2 separate regions of the Homo sapiens genome follow, and region 2 is linked to region 1. A link means that fine-mapping ties the variant in region 1 to the expression of a gene that starts in the linked region. Tissue or cell type: whole blood. Region 1 holds a variant in brackets; the other region holds the start of a gene. All regions are shown on one strand. Distances are between the middles of the regions.

Evidence for each region. PIP is the estimated chance that this variant, and not a neighbour inherited with it, causes the effect.
Region 2: it holds the start of SEMA4D, and the variant in region 1 is fine-mapped to the expression of SEMA4D in whole blood (TOPMed, PIP above 0.99).

What each region holds. Positions count from the first base shown.
Region 1 is chr9:89,376,777-89,384,878 of GRCh38, forward strand. It overlaps SEMA4D (semaphorin 4D), which reads right to left. Exons shown (of 16, transcript NM_001371194.2): 14 at 4,398-4,570; 15 at 4,279-4,322; 16 at 459-2,853. The coding sequence ends at 1,928. Among named protein-coding and RNA genes, the nearest start is that of SECISBP2, 62 kb to the left of the region's middle. The variant C/G (reference allele first, on the strand shown) is at 3,647.
Region 2 is chr9:89,493,131-89,501,217 of GRCh38, forward strand. It overlaps SEMA4D (semaphorin 4D), which reads right to left and starts at 4,983. Exons shown (of 16, transcript NM_001371194.2): 1 at 4,789-4,983. RefSeq lists silencers at 4,303-4,452, 4,883-5,072.

The DNA of each region.
Region 1 (8,102 bases):
ACCTGTGGGAGGAGACAGATGGACAGGGCACAGGGGACAGAGAGGGCCCAACTCACCTGTGGCCTGGCAGAAGAGGTAGAAGTTCCCCAGGGCGTGCACGTGCTGTGCCTGGTCACTCAGGAAGGGCGGCAGCAAGGAGACCCTCGAGCTGCTGTCGGGCCCCGCACCCGAGGCTGGCCAGGGGGTCCAGGGAGAGGAAAGCCTCCTGTCCCCCACATGGCCCAGACAGGACAGGGAAGAGGAGCCAGGAGGAGGGAGGGGCTTAGGAGACGAGGCTGTGAGACAGAGAGGACAGAAAAGAGAGGGCACTGAGGAAGAAGTCGCCAGGAGCACGTCACAGGCCAGAGAGGGCAAAACACAGCAGGAAACGGACAGAAAAGAGCGAGCCCAGCTGTCCCGCCTGGGCCATGCAGGGGCGGGAGGCTGCACAGCCTCCGCTAAGGAATGTCTTCCCCAAATCAAGGATAGAAGCTTCTCATTTATTTGGGTACTTTCCAAATGTATACAATTCAAAGTAGAAAAATAAAAACAAGGTAAATCTTATAAAACACAAATGTTTACACCAAAATGGTCAAATCCTATCATGCTGGAAGATAAGACTGTCCACACACGCGCACAAACATCCAGAGTTTATTGCTCTTCACCATGGAAAAAAAGTCTCTTCCCGATGGGTATTTACAAAGCGGGGAGATGGAGTGTGAAATTAACCAGTGTTGAAATCGTACCACCCATTCACATCTTCAGGACAGTGGCAGGAACAGCGCCGTATGCTTGAGGGTGCTGTGGTCACAGCTCGCGGCCCCGGCCACCGAGGCCCAGTTCCCTTCCAGTAGTGGGCAGCTCAGTGAGGCTGGATAGAAAGTCTGGGCAGGCAGTGGGTAAGCAATTGAAGCAAGAAGAGAAAGGAGATGTTCAGAGAACCAAAGGCGCCCTTGTGAAGGTTCCATCTGTCTCACAGGAGGTTCTGACCGACAGCTGTGGGCTCCAGATTGTACCGCACTCCCATCTCAGCTCTGGGCCAGCCTGGCTCCACTCAGCTCATCCAGGCTACCTTCCCTTGCTCAAAACCCACCTCGTGGATGTGGGAAGGTCCTCTTCTTCGAGAGAGTAAAAGTTAAAAAAAAAGAAAAGTAAAACGAAGTACAGAAAGAAAATCTCTCCAAAAACAATGCTTCCCTCAAGGAATAAAGTTAAAAAAAAAAAAAGAAAAAGAAAAAAGGTGAGTGGGCTCCGGGGAGTGTTTATGTCTACATTTCTAAAAGCAGAAAGAATGCATTTAGCAAAAGGAAGTTTATCCCTGAGAATCTTAAGCAACGTAAGCCGTATTTTATGCCAAATATATAACAAAATCTGGAAGATATACATCTTCTTCTAAATATTAACACAACTGCTTCTGTAACTAAAAAAAAATGACCCATGACATAAACACAATCAAAGCAAAATCCTAAAAAAATAATTAAGTGGAAGAAAAGGTTCGTGCCAATCTGGACAACAGGCGATAAGTTACCAATCTGATAAACTAAAATGTCATTTCCAATCTGGAATTAAATAATCTTTTAGTGGCTGCTACGGGGAGGGGAAGCTGAAGGGATGCTCTTCTCAGCCAACAGAGGTCCAGCCACCTTTCCCCCACTACAGAAAGGGCTCAGGAACTCCGTGCCGCCCGTGGGCCTTCTTCAAGTACTCCGACTGACTTCGGAACACAAGACTGGGATGCAATGCTTGTCATTTTTCCAAAAGGACAAAGAGAAACCAAGTCACAGGCTCAACCCAAGAGAAAATAGACAAGAGGACTGAGGTTGTCTGCACGATGCGGGCTAACCTACGCAGCACTGCACGAGACTCGGATACTGAACAGGAGAAACACAAAACTCTCCACGCCTGGACACGTCGCAGCCGAGGCACCAGCGGGGATGCACAGCCGGCCTCAGTCTCCATCTGCGTCTGAGTCAGCGAACTTCAGCTCACACTTGACGTCAAAGGGCTTGTCCCTGGCAGAAAGGTCGTCGATCCTCTGTGAGTCCTCCCTATCCGTGGGGACTTTGCTGGTGATGGTGTCTTGCTCGGTCTCATAGCCGGTGTCCAGGGCTGGCTTGGGGTGCTCCCCATTCTGCTGGGAGAAGCTCCCTGGCTCTACTAACGTCTCCTTCAGGCTCTGCTCACGGTCACAGAAATCTGACTTGGGCTTCTTCTTCCCAATTAGTAGGGCCGAGCGGAATTTCAAGCACTGTCTGGGCAGGTATCCCTTATAGCAGTTGTAGAAAAAGAGGCAGAGGAAGAGAACAAAGAAGAAGAGGAAGAGGGACATGAGGAGGCGGTTGTCGCTGGACTTAAGATACATGGTTTTCTCCGAGTGGAGCTGGGGGACCGTGTTGATGACGATCTTTGGTTCGCAGGATGTGCCGGTGGGCGCAGGCTTGGGAGGAAGGGTGATGGCCCCGGAGGAGGTGGCCTGCACGGCTGGGGTTGGGGGAGAAGACCCTTGGGTGGATGCCACCAACACTTTGGTGGCAATCCTACTACCTTCTGTCTGAACAACTGACAAGGTGGGGGCCACTACGGGCTTTGGAACCACCTTCACTTCCAGGACGTGCTTGGCGACCACTTGGAAGACCGTTTTGTTCTTAACCCTCTCCTCTGACAGGCACTGGTACACCCCACTGTCTCCTTCTGACAAGTTGAAGATGAGCAAGTTTTTTCTGCCCATAAGACCGTACTTGGGGCTCTCGGCCTTCAACACGCCATTCTGGAACTTCCAAAAGACCCGGGCCAGGTTGGATTTTTGGGAGCATTTCAGTTCCGCTGTGCCACCGTGCTTGAAAAAATGCTGCCGGTAACTTCCTTTACTTTTATCTGGAACATCAAAATAAACGTGCACAGCGTCAACAATCCCCATTTGCTATTTAACAACTTCTTTAAAATACCCACAAGATGACGCAAGAGTTTCACCCACTGTAGCAACATGGAATCTTCCAGAACAACTAAGGAGATAAAGACATGCGTGACCAAAAAGCAAAGATGAGCCCTGGATGACAGCCCATGGGGACAAAGAAATTGGAGGCAGCTCTGAGCAGCAGAAATCCCATTTCTCACCCGTGTCCCAGAAGAAAACGCGTCAGGCTGGGGAAGCTGAGCAGAGGCCAGTTCTGTGCCTAGTGTCAGCTCTTTGAATCAGACACGAGACGCTTCTGCTAATGGCTGCAAGGAAGACTGGCCTTTCAGTGCATCTCAGCACTCTCCTCCTGCCTAAACTTTTCTTTTTTTTCTTTTTTTTGAAACAGGGTCTGGCTCTGTTGCCCAGGCTGGAGTGCAGTGGTGCAATCACAGCTCACTGCAGCTTCAACCCCCCCAGCTCAAGGGATCTTCCCACCTCAGTCTCCAGAGTAGCTGGGACTACAGGTGACCACCTCCAGGCCTGGCTAATTTTTGTATTTTTTGTAGAGACAGGGTCTCACCACGTTGCCCAGGGTAGTCTCGAACTCCTGAGCTCAAGTGATCCTCTTGCCTCAGACTCCCAAAATGCTGGGATTACAGGCATGAGCCACTGTGCCCGGCCAGCTTTTGTTTTCTTTTTAGAGTCTGGGTCTCACTTTGTCACCCCAGGCTGGAGTGCAGTGGCATGATAAGCTCACTGAGCCTTGAACCC[C/G]TGGGCACAAGCAATCCTCCTGCCTCAGCCTCCCTAGTAGCTGGGACTACAGGCGTGTACCACCATGCCCAGCTGCCTAAACCTTTCTTAGTCTGATGACAGCTGTCTTGTCAGGGTCAGGAAGACACAGAACTGAGGGTCAAGTCTGCCTTTAGCACCCTGGAAGGTGGCTGCTGGGGAAGGGGCATCTGGCCTGATGCCACCCCTCCCTCTGGGTGTGGTGCTATTTCAGACATCCACAGGCGGGTGAATCCCAGGTGGGAGCCCCAGGGGAAACACCACCCCAGCCCTTACACTGCCTGAGGATTAATCACTCATGGGCTCCTTTCTCCCCATTTATAACAGGCTTAGGTTTTGCTTAATGAGCCCCAAGCTAAGCAGAAAGAAAACAGGATGGTTTTGGAAGGAGACTGCTTCCCAGTAAGCAGATACACTCTAAGTGGCTTCAAGTACTCTTTCGGCAAGAAAAAAAGACAGAGAAGACCACGAGTCTGCTACAGAACACTTGACCTCTGTTCCGAGTGGAGAAAGAAAAACAAAACACACACAAATGCCACAGAACTGAAGCACCGTGAAATGGCTACAAGACCTCGCCACTCCCAAAGGAAATGGGACGTCGAGGAGTCACTCACCCGGGCACACAGAAGCATCGCCGCTCATCTCCTGAATCAAACCCCTGCAAAACAACCGGCACGTGTTATTCACCCACACACATGGGGGACATCCCCAGGCAGCGCATCCCGCCCCATACCTGCTGGGGCTCTCGGTCTGGTGCAGAGCCACGCAGGTCGCTGTGGGCGGGCTCCAGGCGCAGTAGGGGTCCCGCGCCAGCACACAGTCCTCGCAGGTGCCGTGCTTCCCACAGAAGGCCAGCGGGGCCTGGACCACGCCCGAGTTAGAGCCAGCATAGACAAACCTGTTGCCCTGCGTGTATGAGACAGAGAAGAACTAGCATCAGGCAAGCAGGCATCCAGGAGCATGGCCTCTGCTTCTGCACCAGTGTGTGGGAAGCAGCCAGAGTGTACCTTCAGGGGACATTGCAGTAAGGAGGAGAGGTACTCAGAACCAGAGGCAAACAAGGCAGGTCTGTGACCTTCCTGCAGAATCCACGTGCTATGTCAGGGCTCACTGGGCCTTAGGTCCAAATCCCTCTCTCCCCTGTCTGGGCACCCACAGGTGCCTGCCCTCCAGCAAAGCGCTTCTCTGCACGTGTTTCTCTTAGCCAGTGGGGAGGCTGTTCAGTCCCCACCTCCAGATCTCCTCCCTGCAGCAGAGGATGCATGAGCCTGGCACTCCCGGTCATCTTCCCGGCCTCACTATAGGTGAGAAGGGGCTGCAGCCAGAGGCTGAAGCACACCACCTCGAAGCCCAACCTCGTCCCCCGAGCCAGAATGTGAGCACCTGTGGGCGGGGAGCCTCTCGTGAGGGTCTGGATCCAGCAGAGGCCTAACATAACAGGGATGCCAAACGGACGACATGCAAAGGATGAGGAGATCGTGATACAAAACATAAAAAAGGAACAATGCCTTTTGCTTTTCACTTATCTATATGTAAAAGGGAAGAGCTCACAGACGGGAAGTCAACCTCCGAGCTCCAGAGCAGCCACACCCACAGCAGAGGGCAGGTGAGACTCTCCCACCTTCTGGGACACTTGGTTCCCAGTGACACCAGCTTCAGGTCCATCCCATCAGCCCACCTGGCACCAGCAGTGCCCAGCACACAGGCATCCAGGGCTGCTGACTGCTTTTGAACGGAACTCAGCTGGAAGGAGGGTGCCCCACATGCAGTGCACCCACCTGAAGCTCGGGGGCGTGCAACAGACCTGGAGGTGGCCCGTGGAGCGCGCTCTCTAGCCTCTGCCCAGGGCATCTGCCTCAACAGCCTGGGGACACCTTTTGGTTAACAATACAAGATTCCCAAATTTACACATGACTTAGTGGTTTACAGTCAGATGAAACACGACCTTCATCCTCAGAGGATACGCTCGGAGTCAACTTCAGAGTGTGGTTGGAAGATCACAGGCCCTGATGCCAATACAGGAAGCCCCAGGCCACACATCCAGCTGTGCGGACACAGACCCACGAGAGAAAGGGAAAGCCCCCAAGGATGGAAACTGTGATAATACACAGCAGAGGGAACCTGGCCCGCCGCTGGCCTCACAGCAGCAGCAGCAGCAGAGACCTGGGCAGATGAGGCCATGTGTGAGCCACGTTTGTGGGAAGGATTGAGGATGACATCCCAGATCACAGTTCGGGCATCGCGCGGCTTGTGGAGGTGGCGGAAACATTCTCTGGCAGCAAAGCCAAGCTGGGTAACTTCCAAGGGACAGCTGGTCCTGTTGGGTCCCGCGGGGGGCACCTGCGAGGTGGCGTGAACACCATGCAGTGCAGAGCAGGGTGCCCTGGGTGGCCAAGTGGGGCCCGCCTGACTCCTCACCCCAAAGAGAGGCTTGAGGGTAGCTGTGGAGGGTGGGGTGGGCTCTGGGGGGCAAGGCCTGTCCCAAGGGGATCCAGACCACCTCCTGCACCCTGCGGGAGACTCAGCCCCAGCTTCCGCTTCTCCCGGATGGGGCTGGGCTGCAGCCCAAATGAAACTAAGCTGTAAAAACTAAACGACGCCACACAGAGACCAAGGGATGACTGTGGAAGGGAAGAGGGGACAGGGAAGGAGGAACTGGTCGTCAGGACAGCCAGCTGTAACTGCTGCAGGCAGGACCCACTGGTCGATGTGGATGTCAGTGGGTGGGAGAACAGGGCATTTCTGTAGCCTCCAAGTCTGTCCCTGCAAATAAGCATGAATGACTGTGGGGGTTTCCCACATGACTCCCCTGGGAGGTGGGGCTCACTCTCCCCCACCCCCAGTGTGGACTACATGCCCCGACACACTCGACATGGAAAAAGACGGTGGTGACTTGGACAGAATGACCAAGGTCATCACGCTGGTGCGAGTCATACAGATGCCCCATCCCCAGAAAGCGCCCTCTTTGGTGCTCCCCCTAAAACCACGACCCCAAGATAATCACAAGAATACACCAGACACACCACAAAACACCAGACTACTCCTCTCCAGGAGTGCTGAGGTCAGGGAGGCAGGAACAGAGCAGAAGCCGAGGAGATGCAGTGTCCAGTGCAACCTGAGGTGCTGAGCCAGGAATGTGGTGGGCGGGAGGTAGGAGGGTCCAGGGTCTGGGGTTCAGGTAACGCACTGCACCATGACAGCACCTTGGCTCAGATAAATGCACACTGGCTATGTGAGACATCGGACATGTGGAGCTAGGTGGGGGCGCTCAAGATCCTTCTGTGCAATCATCAAAACTCTTCTGTAAATTTAAAATTATTTCAAGACAAAATTTTTAAAGGCAAAGAAAAAAAGCCTGACCAGGCACCTGGCAGCATGAGTGAGGCCCGCTGAGAGCAAGCCTGTCCTGTGCACTCCTGCCCCTCGACGCCCCCTGTCTCCGCCTTCCCTGGGCCTGAGGATTGTCCCCTTGCAGGCAGCTCTCATGCTCCCATCTCTGTCTCTGCTGCTGTGTGTGCGCGTCAGACCCCGAGGGCAGGTTGGAGTGACGGTGGACGTGATCAGAGGCAACTGAGCTGTCTAAGTGCCTTCCTTGCCCTCTGCCACGCTAGCTGTAGCTCAGCATCCCAAGGAGTCCTGGTGAAAATACAGACACAGCCTACTCGGTGGGCTCAGAGAGGGCCGAGCAAACCGCATCTGCTGTGTGCGCCCAAGGAATGGAAAGCAAGGACTTGAGGTATCTGCACACCCACGTTCACAGCAGCACTGTTCACAGAAGCCAGAAGGTGGGAGCAACCGTGTCCATCAAGGGATGAACGCACACACAAAATGCGGGACTCACAAAATGCGGTATTCACATACGACAGAGGAGTATGTAGCCTTGGAAAACCCTGACCCCTGCTACAGCAGGGAGGAACCTTGAGGACTTTATGTTAAGTGAAATAAGCCAGTTACAAATGGATAAATACTGTGTGATTCCACTCATATGAGGTACCCAGACAGAAACAGAAAGCAGAATGGCGGCTGCCCAGGGCTGGAGGAGGGGAAAATGAAGAGTTTGTATTTCACAGGTAAAAAGCTTCTGTTTGGGAAGATGAAAAGCACCCTGCAGACAGACAGTGGTAATGGCTGCAAAACAACGTGAATGTTCTTAATGCCACTGACGTGCACAATGAAAAATGGTTAAGACGGCAAATTTCATCTGATGTGTATTTACCAAAATAAAAAGCAAAACCCCATGCTTGTCATCAGGGGAGAGGAGGTGAGGGTGGAGGCACAGCGCACCTCCCCAGCTGTAGGACAGGGGGAGGGCGTGGTACTGGCCGTTTCTCCATTTGCTGATCACCGTGAGAGAGCCTGATGGGGTCAGGCGGCACAGTCTTTTTACCACTGAACAGCCACTTCCTGCTGCCATGGCCATGGAGCTGGGCCTTCCACC
Region 2 (8,087 bases), 120 kb after region 1:
AGTTCCTTCAGGTCAGGAACCTAAGACAAAGGAGCATCACCCACCAGGGACCAAACGTGCCAGCACTGTGACCTGCCCAGATGGCTCAGCTCCTTGTGGGCCCTCAGAAGGAGGGGGCTATACAGGATAAGTGTGATCCAGATGGGGGAAAAGAATGTGCATCCACCCACTGGGTGGTTCTGTGCAGGCGCAAAGGCAGGCGGCTCCTGGCAGCACAACAATGAACATGTGCCAAGACCCTCAGCCCTCAAAGATGGCCCAGGGCTCAGAGCCCCGCCACAGCCCTGCTGCAGCACTGGGCTGTGCCCTCACAGCACATGGGACACACCGGTCAGGAACAACAACAAACAAAAGCTCCTAAACTCACAGTGAGAACCAAGTGGGTCAATTGCAGGCCTAACGGGAAACTTTCTGTCCTTCCAAACAAAGTCAAAACACACACACAAATCAGAAGGCCTAACAAACACCCACATTCTACATCAAGGCAAATTACGTTCTGGCTGCTCAAGCAACTCTAATTTCTTGCAACAGATCAGGAAAATACAAAAACTGTTACAATTCTAAGCAATTTCTACTTTTTACTTTGTAGACTTCTATGCAGCACGCATCACTTATGTTTTTGCTATAGCTTTAGGTTACTTAACATATCCTTTACTAAATGGAAGAAGAAAACAAAGACACCACAGGAAATGCTGGAACAAGCCCCAGGTCCAGGTCAGCCAACCAGCAATGGGGACCCCTCTGGCGCAGGCTCCAGACCAGACTTGGCCTTTGTTTCTGTACTGAGTGTAAGGATAACCCTTCTGTGGCTGGATTGTACTATTATTTAATTGTCAGGGTCTTTGTCTTGTCTCCCCTAATGCTGATAGTAGCATATTGATTTCTATCCTTCATAGCCCACAAAGCACATATTCAGAGGATCAATAACTATTGATTCATTGATTGCCTCATGGAAGCCAATTCATCTGTTATTAAGACGTGTAGAAACATGAACTTCCACAAATCAAATTCTATTTAAAACGCCAGAGGAAAGTATATGACCTAATGAAGACCACTTTTTGAAAATTCATTTTGATATTCCAAAAATAATTCCTTGTAACAGAAACAAACCATACATAAGTACAAAAAGAAGACAAAGTATAGGTTCCCTCTTCCTCTTCCCTCTCCTCCCCCAACACACACTCACTCACATTCACACACGCCCCACCCTTTGCTAACTGTGGAGTGCTGCTTTCACTCAGGGCTGAGTCCCTAGAGCCTGGGGCAGCGCCTGGCACCAGGTCCACATAGGCGGCTCCATAATGATCTGCTGAATACCAGGTGTGTGTCCTTCCAGATGGGCTTCCGTGCTGAGCGCCTGCACTTGTGCATGGAGAGGGCACATTCTCTATAGTCTACACTAAGGAGTGACATTTCTACTTAATAGATTGGCATATCTTTTAAAGTAAACCTTTGAATGATGCCATCATGAAGTAAAGAATCCAATGGCATGTTTTACAGGGAGGAATTGGAGATCTCCGATTATTATTAACTTTTCATGATGGAGAATTTTCAAAGTGCATGCAAGTAGGCAGAACAGAACAAAGAACCCAGGTACTCTCATCCAGACCCCAAACTGTCCACTCAGACCATCTCGCCCCTTCTCATCCCCTCTGCTTCCCCACCCCACACTAATCTGAGGCAGATCCCAAACATCATTTCATCTACCAACACTCAGTATCTATTGCTAAAGGGTGAAAGTTATTCTAACATAACCACGATGCTGTGATTAAGGAATTCCTTAAAATCATCATTCACTCCACAAATGTCCATGAGACACATCAATAGCCTAGTTTTCAAAGGAGTGATGCTTGGATCAAATGCTGATCCAAGTGACAGCCTGGATCAGGCTTTGATCGAAGCCAGAAATCTTGGGGTGCCACTTAGATGTGATCCAGGGCAGGGATGCAGTCATTGCTTTCATGGGCAGCATCTGAAACTTCTGGACCAAATAACAGGACCCTGCCTGCCCCCCACTGAGGTTTGCACAGGTGCTGTGGGAAGGCGGCTGCTGATGCCCCAGGGGAAGCAGCAAGGCAGTAGAAAGCTGGGGCCCCTGCTGTGACACCCCCAGCTAAAGGCAAATTCGCTCAGGGAGGGTCACAGAAGCTGAAAAGTGACCCACAAGCAGCAAAGCAATTTGCTTATCCCAAGGATCGCCTTAACTAGTGCACCTAAAACACCACCCAGCTTCCAGGGAAGGCCCTGGCACACCCTCTCCACCTGACTGAATCAGCAGCTATCTCCTCCAGCAGCCCTGGACCCTGGACGGCAATGGTGATGGGGATGGGGATGCAATGGGCAGGGCTGAGGAACTGCACCTGCCAAGCCCAGGGCGGACCCTGGCCCAGGGAAGAGAGGACCCACCCCAGCTGCCTCTGCCACCTCCCTTCTCACCTTCTAGTCTTCTTCCTGGAATTGTCCAAGTTCAAAGAAGAAATAACTGCCCTGGTTGGGAACAGCAGGCAGCAGCCTTTCTCTCAGCAACTAGGCTCGACAATCAGCCGACGGCACGTTTATTTCTATATTTTCACGTGGCAAGTTTCATCCCCATGGGTCCTAGCTCCAACCCTGGAGCTCTGGCTCCAGGGGTCAGGAGGAGAATCTGCAACCACCCTCCTGGACCCGCCCATCCCTCCCTCCCCAACAGAAATGGAACCAAGAGAGGCAGAAGCCTGAACAGCCTCAATGCAGAAGCACAGAAGATAGAGAAAACCATTGATCTTTGCAATGCATTATTGATTTTGCTGTTGTGCTGTCAGCAGCGGACGTTCCCTCCCTCCTCAGTCAAAGCTGGCCATTAGCGTGCACTCCCAAGCTTTGGCCTAGACACACCCGCTTGGTGTGGGGAAAGCGGCTCTAGGTAACATCTGCCTCCAGCGGTCCACATGGAGAGGACTGTCCACAAGTGGATGATGTCACCAAGGACATCTCCCTGGCCCCAGACCCACTGGATATCAAATGCAACATGGTCGCTGGTCTTGCACTCTAAACCTCAGCCCAGGACCCCAGGCACTCAGGGGGGTCTGTGCAAGGCTGCATTTTCAACAGACTCTGGGTGTGCTTCTCAGGAGGTGGGCCCCCTCCCATGGAGTCCCTCCCTTGTGCTGTGCTGCAAGACCTTGGGCTGGCATGGCAGCTGGGGCTCTGCATCCCCACGGTGGCCTTTTGCCTGTCTGCACTCTGAAATACAGCCACTGAGTTCCACCGTCTACCAACTCCTAAGCGGCCCACCCTCCTGGGACCCCAGGGCTGCTCCTGGCACCAGTGATGTGTTTCTATTTCTTTGTTTGACTCGCTGAGTGTACCACGTACACTCTTCTCAGTCTGAAGGTCTGGCCTTATGGGAGGGCAGTCTTTGCTCACAGAAACAGGCCAGTGCATCCCTCATCTTCCCACCCCAGCCTCCCTGGTGGGTATGCTGAGCCCGCCTGCTTTCTTCTTCTGGCTGACGACTACCAAGACATGATATACGCAGACACCAACTGTCAAAATGACAATCAGGGCATTATCATCTCTACCAGAATCCTGCCCCTGCACTGGCCAGAGCTGCCTGTTTCTGGGACACAGTAAACATTCCCAAATAACCTCGCCTGGGCAGCCAGCAGGCAGGCCCCAGGCCTAGGACACATATGAGGTGACAGGCCACTGGTGTCACGTCACCCCCAGGAAAGGAAACTTCCGTTCCGTGGCGCCTGGTGGATTTGAAAAGACTCAGAACAGCAGGGTGAGATGCTTGGCCCCAGGCCCCACGTCCAGCTTGGCCTTCGGGGGCCTGGCCACCCACGAGCCTGGGATGTGCTCAACACAGAGTGAGGTTTTCAAAACAAAAGCAAAGCAACTTCATGTGGAAAACCTTCCGGAAAGCAGGACCCAGCCCTCGACACCAGGCCTCATTTGACGCAAACTGCCCACTTACAGACTCCCATTCACCCACTCTCCCACCTACCCCCCAAAATACTAAGCCAGAAAATAGAGGACAACCACGAGTTCAACTCTCCTTTACACGTTTTTACTGGCATAACCCCAGTAGAGCCAGCCCCTTGCAGCTCACTAGGCGGCTGCAACAGGTGCAGCCCAAGCTAAGGCTTGTGGTTCTCCTGGGCTGTTCTAGAATAATGCAACCAAAACCCGAAAGGAAACCGAGGCCTGCAGCACTCACTGCCAAGGCGGCGACCTGACCACTGCGGCCCAACCTGCCCCACCTGTCTGAGTGCGCGGCGCCGGGTCCAGTGCACAGGGTCCGCGGCCTCCGCGACCAAAATAGAAGCCCGCGGGGGCCCGGCCAGAGCCCGGCTGGCCGGAGTGGGGCCTGACCTGGCGGGGCCGGACTGGGCGGGCCGGGGCGCGACGGGGCCTGGCCGAGCGCACCGCCCCCTCCCTGGCCCGGGTATGCAGCGCGCCCCCGCTCCCCCGCGCCCAGAGGAGCCACCTGCGCGCAGGGACTGGGGAGGCAACCGGGAAGGGGAGAAGGCCGGGGAGGGATAGCAGAGAGGTCCAGGGGGTCGGAGGGGTCCGGGTAGGTGTCTCTGGGAGGCGTCCCAGGAGGGGCCCCGGGGGGATCCAGGAAGGAGTCCAGGGGTCCGGGGATCCCAGAAGGAGGCTCCTGCAGGGGTTCGGGGAGGGCCCCGAGGGTCCGGTGAGGAGCCTAGGGGTGTGGAGTGGGGGCTCCGCGGAGGGTCCAGGCCGCCCCCAGCGCACCTGCCCGGCCCCGCGCGCCCTCCCTCCCGCGCCAGCCCGGCCGCTTACCTGCAGCGCGCGTCCTGCCCGCGGCGGCTCCCGGCCGGGCGAGTTCGGGCGCCAGGAATGGCGGCGGCGGCGGCGGCGGCAGCGGCGGGAGGCGGCCGGGCCGGGGAGGGGGTGGCGGGGAGGCCCGGCGGCGGCAGCGGCGGCTGGGATGCTGCGGCGCGCGAGAGCGCTGAGGCCGGCGCGGGGACGGAGTGCGCGGGGCGGGCGCGCAGGCCCCTCCTCCGCTCCCCCTCCCTTCCCGCCTCCTCCCCTTTCCCTTCCCCTTCCTCTCCCCCTTCTTCTCTTCCCTCCTATGGCCCCGCCCCTTTCTTCCTCCTTCCTCCTCCCTCCTCCTCGCCCCTGCTCACCTCCCTCCTTTCCCTCCCCCAACCTTTCTTTTCCTCCCTTCTCTTTTTCCTCCTCTTTCTTCACCTTCGCAACACTCTTCCACCTCTCTCCCCTTCTCCCCACTTTTGCTCCCCACTCCTTCCTCCTCACCTCCCATCTCTCTTGCCTCCCCGCCAGGCCCAGAGGGTTGTCCCTCAGCCCTGGGTTGGTCTCTGCTGAGTCAAGCACCCGTTCCCAGGACCAAGAGGTGCCCTGTCACCCTCTTCCTCACCAGCTCTCAATAGACAAGCTTGCCCCTTCTGGGGTCCTGGATGAACCCCACCCTTTCCAGGCCTCCCCCAAATCCCCCAGTTTTTTTTCACCCCCAGACCCTGGGCCAGCTCTTCTGAGAACCTGACCTGCAGTGTGCGTGAGGCACGTGGCACCCAGAACACTTGGCTGCTGACTTTGGGCAAGAATATTTCACACCAGGCTGCTCCCATTCCCCAGGGGAGGGGCTGGCACCACCTGGAGTCTTGGTTTCCCTGAACCCCCGTGCTAGCCTTTTGCCAAACGTTCATCATTTTCCACTCTGTATGGCAAATGGTCCTCCTGTGAGGCTGCTGGTGAGACTTGTTTGTGACTAGCCCATGGGTTTGGGGATCTGGGGGCCCTCAGAGATGGTGCTGCTCCATCCAGACCTCTTCCCTCTGCCCCCAGGAGAGGTGACAGGGCTCGCACAGTGACTGGCCAGGCTGGGAGGCCTATTGAGGAACACAGTCCTGAGAAGGGGACACAGTTTCTTACGGAACCAGCTAAGATTTCCCCTAAATGTGAGGAGTTGGGGAGCCCCTCTCCAGGCCAGGTGATACCTCCCTGGACTACAGACTGCTGTTGAGGGGCAGGGGCCCTGAGGCTGTTTTCCTGCTGAGCACTGGCTCTGAGAGCCAGAGTTTACAAATGAAGCCAGTCCCAGGCCCAACAGTCACAGAGTTAAAGGCCCAACAGTCTCAGAGTTCCGTTCTAGGGCCTCCTGTGGTTTCTGTGGTTCAGTGCCGGAGCTCTGAGAATAGGGCTTCGGCCCAGCAAAGGCTAAGATGGCAAAGCTGGTGTCAAGCAGGGTGGGGTGGAGCACGCACCCCCTCCTCCCTCTACGGCATGGCAGCCACCACCCTCTTGCTGAAGAATCCAGACCTGGAATCTGATAGACTCCCTTGACTCACAGCTCTGCAGTTTCCAAATAACCTCAGGCCTCAGCAAACCTCTGTACCCTGCAACATGAGGACAGTGTGGTCGTCCTGGAGGGTTTGGGGAGCACGGAGAGAGAATGGCAGGTAAAGCCCACTGCACCGTGTGCTCGGGTTCAGTGCTGGTGACTATTACAGGAAAAACTAGAGAAGTCTTTTCCAAGCTCTTTTCCAATTGTAGGGGTCCATGAATCCATGTTCCACATCCCATTTGGATTGAAACATAATGGGAACGGATTAGGACAGAACTGGTTTAACAGCATTCTATACCCAAGGAGGGATGCACGCTTAGGATCTACACATGCAAGCATTGCACTGATTGGGGTGGGGTGGGGGGACTCTCTTTTATTCCTCACTAGTCAGACACATCTAGAATACCATGCCCTTGCTTGGTGTCTAAGGCAGCCAGCAGTATCCCGTGGGAGGGGAGTTGACCCACCGGGAGTCTTCAGCCTAGAAAATCAATGTGTGGAGCACAAGACAGAAGAACCCCAATATGTGCAAAACTGTCCCGGGAAGAAGGATTACTCTGTGGTGTTATGAAGGGCAGAATGAGGACAGATGGGTGGAAATTAGATGAGAAAGTGGATTCCTGCCTATCGTGGGCGCTTTCTGACAGACCTCACTGTGGAAGAGCCGGCTGCCCCTACAGGAGCGTGCCCTTCACAGCCAGCGTCTAGACAGGCCTGGGGCCACCTTGGGAACACACTGCAGGGAGGGGACCAGCAGCAGAGGGGTATGCTTCTCAACAACTGCTGAATTCTCTCCTGGCTTTTAGACCCACATGCTCAGAATCTAATAGAGGGCAGCCCAGGGCAAAGAAGAGACTTTGCATGGCTGTCCTGGGGCCCACACTTCTGGCATCATGACCTTCCAGAATACTGTCCTCTCTAGCCTGTTTCCTAATGCATACAGAAGAACATGAGAGAATTCAGTAAAAACTCCAAAAAGCTTTCCGCAATGCCCAGGCTGCGAACACAAGGGCTTCTTTGCACCGTGCTTATATAAAATTGCCCCCAAACATGTTTATTGCATTCATGAAGGAGACAGGACTCTTAGTTGTAAGTGATAGAACTTCAGCCCATACTATTGGCTCACTTGCATCCAAAGATGCCCCAAGTACCATTAGAACCGGGACTTGGATGCCATTATTAGGTCTTCCTCTTCCCTCCTCTCTGACCTTCTTCCCTGTTCCCTTCTCTCAGCATGATTGCCTATGTCTCCCAAAGTGACCAAGCTTGCCTTTTTATTCTTGTTTCACACTCTGTCGTGGGACATTTCAAACATAGATATAAAAGTAGCAGGCTGGGTGCAGTGGCTCACGCCTGTAATCCCAACACTTTGGGAGGCTGAGGCAGGCGGATCACCTGAGGTCAGGAGTTCGAGACCAGCCTTGCCAACATGGTGAAACCCCGTCTCTACTAAAAATACAAAAATTAGGTGGGCATGGTGGCACAAACCTGTAATCCCAGCTACTCAGGAGGCTGAGGCAGGAGAATCACTTGAACCCGGGAGGCGGAGGTTGCAGTGAGCCAAGATCATATACCACTGCACTCCAGCTTGGGCGACAGAGCAAAACTCAGTCTCAAAAAATAAAAATAAAAGTAGCTAAATGAACTCCAATCTTGCCTTACCTCTCACCCCCTTACTTTCCCCTCCAATATTAAGTTCAAGCATATCAAAGATCATATTAACCAATCTATTTCCTAGTTTCCCCAGAAATGCCAAGTGTTTGGATACTGAGAC